2 separate regions of the Homo sapiens genome follow, and region 2 is linked to region 1. A link means that fine-mapping ties the variant in region 1 to the expression of a gene that starts in the linked region. Tissue or cell type: whole blood. Region 1 holds a variant in brackets; the other region holds the start of a gene. All regions are shown on one strand. Distances are between the middles of the regions.

Region 1 (5,373 bases):
CCAACCTCAGGTGATTAAGGACCGGACCACACTAGCATGGGTGTCAGAAACACGGAGCAGCCTGGCTCTGGGACAGCACTTGGCCCTCTGTCAGTGACAGGCACAGGGACAAGTGTGAGGGTGGCAGGGGGGTGGGGCGGTGGGGCGAGAGCAGTGGTGAGGGAGAGGCGGAGAAAAGCTCCTGCCAAAGTCCCAGAGGGTTAGGGGACAGCATTAAATGCCCTACCCTCCCAACCAGGGCAAAGGCTACAGAGAAGACGGTTGAGGGCCCAAAGGCTTCCTAATTTACTATCCGCATCCCCGACAAGCATGTACAGTCGATCCTCATCATTCACGGATTCTGCATTTGCGAATTCGTCCACTCGCTAACATTTATCTGTAGCCCCAAAGCTGGCACTCACCGTGCTTTGGCTCATTCATGGACACACACACAAGGGCAGAAAGTTTGAGTCGCCCAACCCGTGCAATCCCAGCTGAGGATGAACAATGCCACACTCTGCCTCTGTGCCTCATACTATAAATAAGTGTCCTCCTTGCAGCTTGTGTAGTGCCACATTTTTCACATTTTTGGTTTCATTGTTTAGAATGGCCCCTGAGGGCAGTGCTGAAGTGCTGTCTGGTGCGAAGTGCAAGAAGGCTGGGATGTTCCTTAAGGAGGGAATGGACATCAGATAAGCTCTGCTCAGGGATGAGTTAGAGTGCTTGTGGTGGTGAAGTCAGTGTTAATGAGTCAACCCTATATATTACATAAGGCGTCTTGAAACAGAAACGCATTTAACACAAAGTTATGTATTCATCAGTTGACCAAAATATTGTGGCCAGAGGCTCATGGGAGCCTAACCTTGTATTTCCCTTAGGAGCAGTGGTTCAGTATTTGCTAATTCCGTGTTCACAGCGACTATTTATTTATTTATTTATTTATTTATTTATTTATTTATATTTTGAGAGGGAGTCTCGCTCTGTCGCCCAGGCTGGAGTGCAGTGGCACTATCTCGGCTCACTGCAACCTCCATCTCCCGGGTTCAAGTGATCTTCCTGCCTCAGCCTCCTGAGTAGCTGGGATTACAGGCATGTGCCACCACCCTTGGCTAATTTTTGTATTTTTAGTAGAGACGGGGTTTCACCATGTTGGTCAGGCTCGTCTCGAGCTCCTCACCTCAAGCAACCCGCCCTCCTCAGCCTCCCAAAGTGCTGGGATTACAGGCATGAGCCACTGTGCACAGCCTCAAACAGCGACTAATTTATAGAACAGAGCTATGGCAAATGGCTGTATTTGTTTCAGAGAGTGAAAGCTGGAGCTTGTGAGTCTAGAATCAAGGCCTCCTCCTGCTTCCAGGTTGTATGGCCTTAAGTCATTTAACCGCCCTAAGCTTCAGTCTCCTCAAGGGAGGATGAAAATGTCCCTTTCGAATGTGCTACACTTCAAGAAAAAGGTTTAGAAATAATAATGGTAACTGTGAGCACTGATGTGAAGAGAGTAAATAAGAACATATATGCTCTGGGACTCAAACAATTGCAGGTCTTGTTTGTAGTGTGACTCGGAGCAAGTCAAATGACTTCCCTAAGCCTCAGGTTCCTTAGCCATAAACTAGCAATAATGCCAGCATTTCCCTTGTAGGATGGTTATGATGGTTGCTGAGTTTATGTTTGTGAAAGGGCTGTCTAGGGCCGGGCATAGTGACTCATGCCTGTAATCCCAGCACTTTGGGAGGCTGAGGCAGGAGGATAATTTGAGATGAGCCTGGGCAATGTGGTAGGACCCTGTCTCTACAAAAAAAGTTTAAAAATTAGCTGGACATGGTGGCATACACCTGTAGTTCCAGTTTCTTGGGAAACTGAGGTGGGAGGATCGCTTGAGCCCAGGAGTTCAAGGCTGCAGTGAGCTATGATTATACCACTGCACGCTAGCCTGGGCAACAGGGCAAGACTCTGTCTCTAAATGAAATAAAAATAAAGAATGAAAGAGACTCTTTTCTAAGCTTTTGAAAGGTGAGGGGACCCAGGAGAAGAGGCCAGAACAATGCAGGAGTCCTGGGCAGAGTGAGGTGGCCTAGGTCCTCATCTCACCCCTGCTCTTGCCACTGTGCCTCTAGAGTCTCAGTTTACCAAGGGATGAAATGGGCAGTCATGCCAGCATGATCTCTGAGGTCTGAACTTTCTCTTCTGCTCAGTGCCTGGGCGGTAAAGTAGATGGGAGATCCTAGCCTGTCTTTCCCAGGCTGCATATTCCATGATGGTCTCTTATTTGAGGAGCACTTCTTGGGGCAGGCACCGTGGGGAGCACCAGGAGGCTGTTCTTGCCCTCAGTGTTTCTAATCTAGTCAGGGAAATATGCAGACATCAAAAAGCACAGATGGACAGAGACGGTAACATTTCTAGAGAGCCAAGTAATTGTTTGCATTCATACAATGCTAAGCACCTATGTGTCTTAGCTTTTTTAAACATCACACCTCTCTAATGGGTAGGCCCTATTACTGCCCTCATTTTACAGCAGAGAAAACTGACTCACAGAGCAGGTAAGGCACTTGACCGAGGTCAGGCAGCATGGGACTTGAACCCGGGTGGTCTGGCTCCAGAGTTCATGCTCTTACCCACTCGACTCTGCCATCTCCTGAACAGAAAAGGCAGCTTTTTTCTTTTTTGTATTTTGTATTTTTACAAAATACAAAAGGGAGAGCTTCCAGAGTGGAGAGGGGCCTGCTCCAGGAAGGATCAGGAAGGTTTTGTGGGGTGGAGGTGTTGAGGGCGGCAGGCAGAACCTCTGCAGAAAAGAGAATGGAAGGCAGCCTTGACAGAAGCGTGACCGAAGGCAGAGAACAGGAGGGTAGAGCGTGTTCAGAGGCTTAGAGGAGACAGTCAGACTTGGCCGATGTGATGGCCCAGCAGTGATGAAAGCATCTTCCCTCTACGGTGGCAGCACTGTCCACCCACTGCAGCAGCAGTTCCTGGCTTTACAGTTCTACAGCAGCCCCTGGCAAGGAACCTGGCACCACCCTCCCATCCCTGGGGAACCACCCAAGAGCTGAGTTCTCCCTACTCCCTTCCAACACTCCTCCC[C/G]AACCCCTTCACCTGGAGGACCCAAAACAGCTCTATGTCTGGGGATGGCTCCACCTCCGAATGAGCTCCTGCCTCCCTGTGTCACTTCCCACCCTGCCCAAGAGATTGTCACCTCCTCCTTATTGAAGCATCCTCCTTTCCCCAGTGGTCCCAGGGCCCCTGCAGATAGAACATGAGTGGCTGGTCTTGAAAACATGGAGTTTTCACCCCAGGTTGGAGGCTGGAGGCCCCATGGGGGCAGGAGAGGTTTCTCACTGCGAATCCCAGGCTGAAGAATGTGGGCTTAGTTCCTCCAGCAAAGCTGCTCTTTTCCAGCCTAAGACTCAATACAGGAGGAGGAGAGGAGGATGCATCTGCTTTTCAGAGATCTCTGTCCATCTGAGGGGCATGGGGAGAGCAGCCAGAGGCAGCGGTCAGGAAGTGCTGTGGGCCAGAGCTGAAGGGGAGCTGTCACCCTTGAGGCATGAGCTCCCAAGGCCAGGGAGCACATCCGCTCCATCCCTGGGTTCCCAAGGCTGGCGCATGGCGGACATCAGTGCATGTTGGCAGAGCTGAACTGAGAAAGTGAAGGCCTCACCTAGCCTCACCTAGCCCCTTCTTGGCACAAGCCCTGGCTCAAGAAAAATGGCTCTTCCTAAGTACAAGGATCTGCTGGGGGATGTCTCCCCAGGTGACCACGTAGGCACGGGGGCCTCTGCCCCTCTCCAAGGGCACAGAGCACAGTGCTCTCCTTGGCCCATACAGAGAGGCATCCTGGAACACTTGCACACTCAGAAGGAATTCATGAGGCCTGGGTGGCGGCTCTGAGGAACAGCCTCTGCATAGGGAGCAAGAGAAGGAGGGCGGCATCTCAGGAAGTCGGGCTGCAAGTGCAGCACCCTCAGCACATCGCCCTGCCTGGGGAGACTGCTTTTCCTGAGTCAGATTCGGCCTGAGCTGCCAGCACAAAACTCTGTGTGTGGGGTTTTTGCTGGACGTTGCACTTTTGCATTCTAAGTGACTCCTTCTCTCTTTGTGTCTCCCAGGATCACACCTCGACACCCAACCCCTGAACCCCACACACTCTGCCATGCACACAGGAGGAGAGCTGGACCTGAGGGCCACCGCAGCGGTGCACACATTCCTCTGGGCTGACGGCATGACCTCTGTAAGGGACTCCTGCTAGTCCCCTCTTGGCATGAATGACTGACTGTAGACGCATGACCTCCAGGCTTCAATCCTGCCTCTTGCAATGACAGCTGATCTGTCGGAACCAGGACACAAAAGCAGCAAGAAGCGGGGAGAGAGAGGGATAGAAAACAAGCGCAGGAGAGCCTGCGAACGCAAAAGTGAATGAGGGCTTTTTGTGGCTGGGGATGGGTTTTGGTTTTGGGGTTTTTTTTTTAAATTGTTTTGACTTCGTACAGGGTACTTTTTCCCAACCTCATCTGTCAGAAATCCATGTGGGCTTCCTGGAAAGAAAAAAAAAAAAAAGAAAACTAGGCATGAAATCAGTTTAACACCTTAATCTTAAGCCATGTCCTCATCTGCCCACCCTCCCCAACCCACATACCTCCATTCCACTTGTGACACCCCCTCGACTCCCTGGTGACGCTCCTCCCAGATCGCTCTACATGACATTCAGGACACACACACACACACACACACACCACTCGCCTCCACTGAATCTACACACAGATTTTACTGTGACTTCTGAAGCTGTATAGACTCTGCTGTGGATAAATTGGAATTTTTTATGTTGTCTCTCTCTCTGCCAATTTCAATACGAATCATCTTCCAATGGAAAATCATTACCTTGAAGAGTGCATTCGGGGTTCCTTGTGTTAGGGACTTAAGAATCTGAGGCGAGGACCCCCAGGCTTACCTGTAGGACTCAAAGGGAGCCAGGACCCCATCTGAAAGGGTCTCCTCTCTCAGTTGGGGGACAGGCCGGTGGCTGACCCAGGATTGCACCAGCATGTCCATAGAGAAGAGGTTTTCTATGTCTTCAAGCACTATATCATAGTCCGTGTTCAAAGTGTAAACTGTACAGTAATCAGCCTTGTGTATATGAAAAACAATAAATACTATGCAAACCAATAGAAACATTTAGCAGTACGTACAGAGCCTGACAGCGCAGCTCCTGAGGACTTCTGCGGCTGCAGGAGAAGGAGCTGTGGCCTGTCTTTCAGTGAAAGAGGAAGGAAAGGAGTAGGGCTAGTGAATGTATCTGCCAGGTCTTAGAAGTCAGGACCACCCAGGGTCTCCCAGAGTGAACTTGGTGCTCTAAGTCCAGGCAGCCTGCAGGCTGGGGACCCTGGGTGCAGGTGCCAGGCT
Region 2 (5,373 bases), 79 kb after region 1:
ATGGTTTAGTGATACATGGAACGGATGATATTCCGTCAAGTTCTCTCCATGAGCACAATGACACAGTAGGAAGTAAAAGACACGTCATAATGAGGTTCTACTTTACCCAAACAAACAATTCTGCAGTACAGTTCATGTTTAACCAGGGCCAAATCATCTCCAGATAGCTTAGAGAGTTTTGTTTTGTTTTTAATAAAAGCTAACTTGTGGTGACAAGCACACACAAGAAAAGTGGGTTTTTCTTTAGCAGAAACCACTTAGCAAGTTAGGCTAGCCTCTGAAGAGCCTAGCCACAACACTCCTCACACCAAACACAAAATAGACACACAACAGTTGCCTCCTCCTCCCTCCTCTATCTTTAGGGGTAATGATTTACCATGACACTCAAATGCTGTTATTGCAGTGGTACTTCCATAAACTGGACATGCATAACAACTATTGTATTTAGGTCACAAACTCACAAAAGAAAAGTCCATCCTGAAAGTAAGTTGACAACTATGTCATCATATAAATAACCTAAACTTCCATGAAAACTCAAAGACCCCTAACATGAGGACTTGCTTGTTCCCAGCATTCCTTGGAGAGGCAGAATATCCCCATTTTAAGGGTAGGAAAATTGAGGAATAAGTACTGAATTTACCAGTCTTTGTTGAGATAAGGAAATGTAATAGCATAAATTTTGCTAGGAAATGCATATTATGGTTTTGTAAGAAAGTCTAACCCATGGTCCAAGAAGCCCAGATTCTTACCTATTAATGGCATGAAAGGCTTTCTGAGATGATGCTATTGTTCTCTCAGAAAAAGAAGAGTAACACTCTTAAGTCATTCTGGTTTCCCTTAGTAACTCTTTCTTAAATAGCCGTGAATGTTATCTACACCGTTTATAGCTTGTTCTTCTTCTCAAACTGGTATACCACTTCTAAGGTCAGAATTTTATCATGTTCCCTAAAAACTATTATCAGAACTTCTCGTCTGCCCCAAATTGATTTTTAAGAAATAATTTAAGGCATTTCTTAAAATTCTGAAATTTGGTGGAAAAGCTCATGTTCGCCTATCCAAATCCTTCATGAATGTAAGCGTCTTCATCCACAGCCTTCCTACACCATTTCTCTTTCCTGAAGGCAAGTAGTATGGGTCAGTGGAACCGCAGCCTCGAGGCAGAGGCGAGATTTCAGCCTCTTAAGACCTGCAGCTCTGGACAAGTCACTGAACTTCTCTGGACCTCCAAGGGCTCAGAAAAAAATGAAAACATTGAACAGGACGTTCCGAATGTTCTCATCCAGATCTGAAACACTTTTTTTCTTTTCTTTTTTTTTTTGACACGAGTCTCGCTCTGTCGCCCAGGCTGGAGTGCAGCGGCGCAATCTTGGCTCACTGCAACCTCTGCCTCCTGGGTTCAAGCGATTCTCCGGCCTCAGCCTCCCGAGTAGCTGGGAATACAAGTACTTGCCACCACGTCCGGCTAATTTTTGTATTTTTAGTATATGCAGGGTTTCACCATGTTGGCCAGGCTGGTCTTGAACTCCTGACTTTAGGTGATCCGCCCGCCTCGGCCTCCCAAAGTGCTGGGATTACCGGCGTGAGTCACCACGCCCGGCCATACTTTTTCTTTTAACCTGTTCTATCATGTTAAGATACCTTTTGCTGTGCTCTTTCTTCAACTCTACTGTGTTTCTTAGCTGAAGACCTCATGAGTAGGCTGTGTTCCAAAACAAAAAGCACCTTATGACTTGGTATGGTGGTTTTCATTATGGAACTGAAGCTACTTTTGACAGACTCATCTTGCATCAAGTTCTCCCTGAGACATACGGGAGGGGAAATGGGTGGGGTGTGTATGGCACAGGAATAGCCACAGTTAAGTGGCTGAGGAGGCCAGAACAAGTACATGCTGGTTCCCTATTCCATCTATTTCCCTGTGTCTGAAATTCTCCAAAATACAAAGTTAAAAAAGAAAAGAAAAGCACATCTCTTTCAAAGAGAGAAGTATATTTGATTGGCATTATTACAGGATTTTGTCTGGAGACTTTGGTATGGTATAACTGCTCTTCACACCATTTCCCTTGGATTGAGATAGAATCTACAAGACATGAAACTAAGGAGAGCTCCTCAAAGTTCAGCCAAAATTAAGGAAAATGAACCAAAAACAAAATTCCTCAAATGACCTCAAGGTTATCCATGAGAAGATCCATGGTAATACTTGGCAGAGGATGGAACTTATTTCCATCGTGCTACACCGTATGTCTCCTATAAGCTATTTTCTGCAACTTCTGAACAGCTAAACTTCAGCCCTCTGTGACATGGAAAGCGAGGAAATAAACAAGCCCCACTGGGAGAAGGATGCCTCAGAGGGTGCTGAAATAAAAAAGGAAAGGCAAGGGATTTCAGGAGTTAAGAAATCCTAAAGAAAAATGGGAGCATGCATTTGGAGAAGGAGAGGGTAAAGACATGCATCTTACGGCAGCCAGAGAACACAGGAAGGGGAATGACAGGGGAAGGCGCTTCCTGGTGCTCCAACGCCCAGCAGCCCTCGCCACCCACATCCCCGGACTCCCGGGGCGGGAGGGCTGCGCACACCTGGGACTTGGGGGAGGCGAGGGGCTCCGAGGAGCCGGGCTCGGAGAGCAGGCGAGCGGAGAGGCGGGCGGCCGGGGTTCGGGGCGGGCGCGGACCGTTCCATCCCGGACGGGGGGCACCCGCTCCACCCGCCGGGGATCCCCGGGGCGCGGCGATGGTGCCTCCTGACGCCGGCGCAGCGTCGCCGGGGCGTCCCAGACCGCAGGCCCCGCGCGGCCGCCCAAGCCCGGCTCCCACGTCCCGCTCTCGGCTCCCCGGAGGTCGGAGACTTTGAGGTAAGGGGCCAGCTCCCTCCTACTCACCGACCGCGAGGCTAGGCAGCTCCAAATCCCGCGGCGACCGCTCCCTCCCGCCCTTGCCGCCGCCGCGGGCCCAAGCTGCGTCAGGACGTGCGCGCGCCCGCCTTTGTCTGCGCCGCCCAACGTGACCCTGCGCCCACCGCCCCGCACGCTCCCGTCGGGCGCGCGCGGGCCGGCAGGGCGGGGGCCTAGGGAGAGGCGGGTGCCGCGTGGACCGGTCGCGGGTTGGGCGACCCGCGGAGTCGCCCTCTGGCGGACTAGGGGGCACTGCCGGGGGCGGGGCGGGGCAGGAGCAGGAGAGGCCGGGCCCTGGCTGTCCCTCCGCTGGCGCGTCCCTCTCAGAAAGCGGAGCGCTTCCCTGCGTTAGGACCCGATACTGGCTCCCTCCCCGGAGGTTCGCTTGTGTGTTCCGGAGAGGGTGAAATCAGGCTGGCACCGCGGGAAGAGGCTAGAGTCACTAAATCACCTTGTCCTCTTGAGGCTGCTGTCCGTATGCAGCGACATTCTGCCCGTTAGAGGACTCAGCTCAGGGCCTGGTACGCTCAAGATCTGTTAGCTACCAGCACCATCACCACGACCACCGTCATCACCAGCAGTATCCCTCAGCCTCGTCTACCTTGCTCGTCAAGCAGGGTGCTCCAGGAGTGGGTGTAGGCCACTTTCGCCCTGCCTGGCAGATGCAACTTTCCAACTTCCACCTCCACTTGGACCTGCTCTCTCTACTCAAGTCTAGCTGGTGGCTGCTGGAGTTTGCGTGTGTGTTTCTTACTATATCTTCTGACTTCGGACGCCTAACCCAAGCTTATTATCTCCCCTAAAATGGGACCTCCTTAAAATATATATTACCTTTCTTTTTCCTGTTCTTAAAAGACAGTTTGCCTTTAGTGCCAAGCCCTCTCCGCCGGTTTACGCTGTACACGGCTGTCAGATTGTCATTCCGTGCTAAATGCATAATCTGATAATGAAATCTTTAAAGTCCACATTCTTAGACCTCAAAATCTCTGTAAGAATAAAGGGCAGAGTATGGTAGTTCACGCCAGTAATCCCAGCGTTTTGGGAGGCCAAAGCAGGAGGATCGCTTGAGGCCAGGAGTTTGAGACTAGCCGGGGCAACGTAACGAGACCCCCACTTCTACAAAAATTTTGAAAATTAAAAAAAAATGGTGGGGGGAGCGGGGCGCGGGTAGCTCACGCCTGTAATCCCAGCACTTTGGGAGGCAGAGGCGGACAGATCACTTAAGGCCAGGAGTTTGAGACCAGCCTGGCCAACATGGTGAAACCCCGTCTCTACTAAAAATACAAAATTTAGCCGGGGGTGATGGCACGCACCTGTAATCCCAGCTACTCGGGAGGCTGAGACAGGAGAATTGCATGAACCCAGGAGGCAGATGTTGCAGTGAACTGAGATTGTGGCACTATACTCCAGCCTGTGTGACAGAGCGAGACCCAAACTCAAAAAAAAAAAAAAAAAAAAGAATAACCACTTAGCTCCAAAACACTGGACTACTTATCTCCACCAAATATAACTAAATGTTACCCATTTGGAACTGATCACGTATTTATTAACTCAATCACTTATCCATTCATTGAGCCCTTGTTACTCGCCCAGCTTTTTTGGGGATCCCAATTCAAGATTGAGTAATGCATGGCCACGTCTAATCGTCAACGACATTAAATTCCATAAGAGAAGAAACCACCGGGCGCGGTGGCTCACCCCTGTAATCCCAGCACTTTGGGAGGCTGAGGCGGGGGAATCACGAGGTCAGGCATTCGAGACCAGCCTGACCAACATGGTGAAACCCCGTCTCTCCGTCTCTACTAAAAATACAAAAATTAGCCGGGCGTGGTGGTGCGCACCTGTAATCCCAGCTATTCGGGAGGCTGAGGCAGGAGACTTGCTTGAACCCAGGAGGCGGAGGTTGCAGTGAGTTGAGATCGCACCACTACACTCCAGCCTGGGCGACAGAGGGAGACTCCATCTCAGAAAAAAAAAAAAAAAAGAAGAAGAAACCAGACATCATACATTTTTGTGTTGTGTTCTCCACAGTGCTAGGGATAGGGATTTAAAGTGGCCACCAGGATCTCAACTGCTCTTTGGAGTCCTTCGTCTGGTCTCCTTTTCTGCCCCCAGAACCAGTCTTGGAAGTAGCCCACTCATCTGCTGTACTCTCTTTGTGTTCTCATGGTTATATTTTCTCACAATTCTTACCATCTACTAGTTCTTTGTACATAATATTGAAATCTTAAAATATTTCACACATATTAGAGGCTCAAGAGAAAATGGTGTTCTTTGCCCAAGCAAATAGTAGGCTCAATTGTTGGGTATTAACACTGATACACACACACACCTTGTGAGTGTGCACATTCACTGGCACATTCTCTAAACTTCTCAAGTGCAGGAAGGCAATCAAACTTCCCTCTGAGTGGGAAGCCAACATGAACTAGGTAAATATAGTTCCTGTAGGCACCAAAACTTTTATCACATTCATTTCTAGGTACAA

Evidence for each region. PIP is the estimated chance that this variant, and not a neighbour inherited with it, causes the effect.
Region 2: it holds the start of GPAT4, and the variant in region 1 is fine-mapped to the expression of GPAT4 in whole blood (TOPMed, PIP above 0.99).

Annotation. Positions count from the first base shown.
Region 1 is chr8:41,654,463-41,659,835 of GRCh38, reverse strand. It overlaps ANK1 (ankyrin 1), which reads left to right. Exons shown (of 43, transcript NM_000037.4): 43 at 4,083-5,373. Among named protein-coding and RNA genes, the nearest start is that of MIR486-2, 3.3 kb to the left of the region's middle. RefSeq lists an enhancer at 3,349-3,882. The variant C/G (reference allele first, on the strand shown) is at 3,058.
Region 2 is chr8:41,575,782-41,581,154 of GRCh38, reverse strand. It overlaps GPAT4 (glycerol-3-phosphate acyltransferase 4), which reads right to left and starts at 2,955. Exons shown (of 13, transcript NM_178819.4): 1 at 2,877-2,955. GPAT4-AS1 (GPAT4 and GINS4 antisense RNA 1) reads left to right here and starts at 2,787. Exons shown (of 3, transcript NR_125824.1): 1 at 2,787-2,849. RefSeq lists silencers at 2,449-2,588, 2,609-3,228.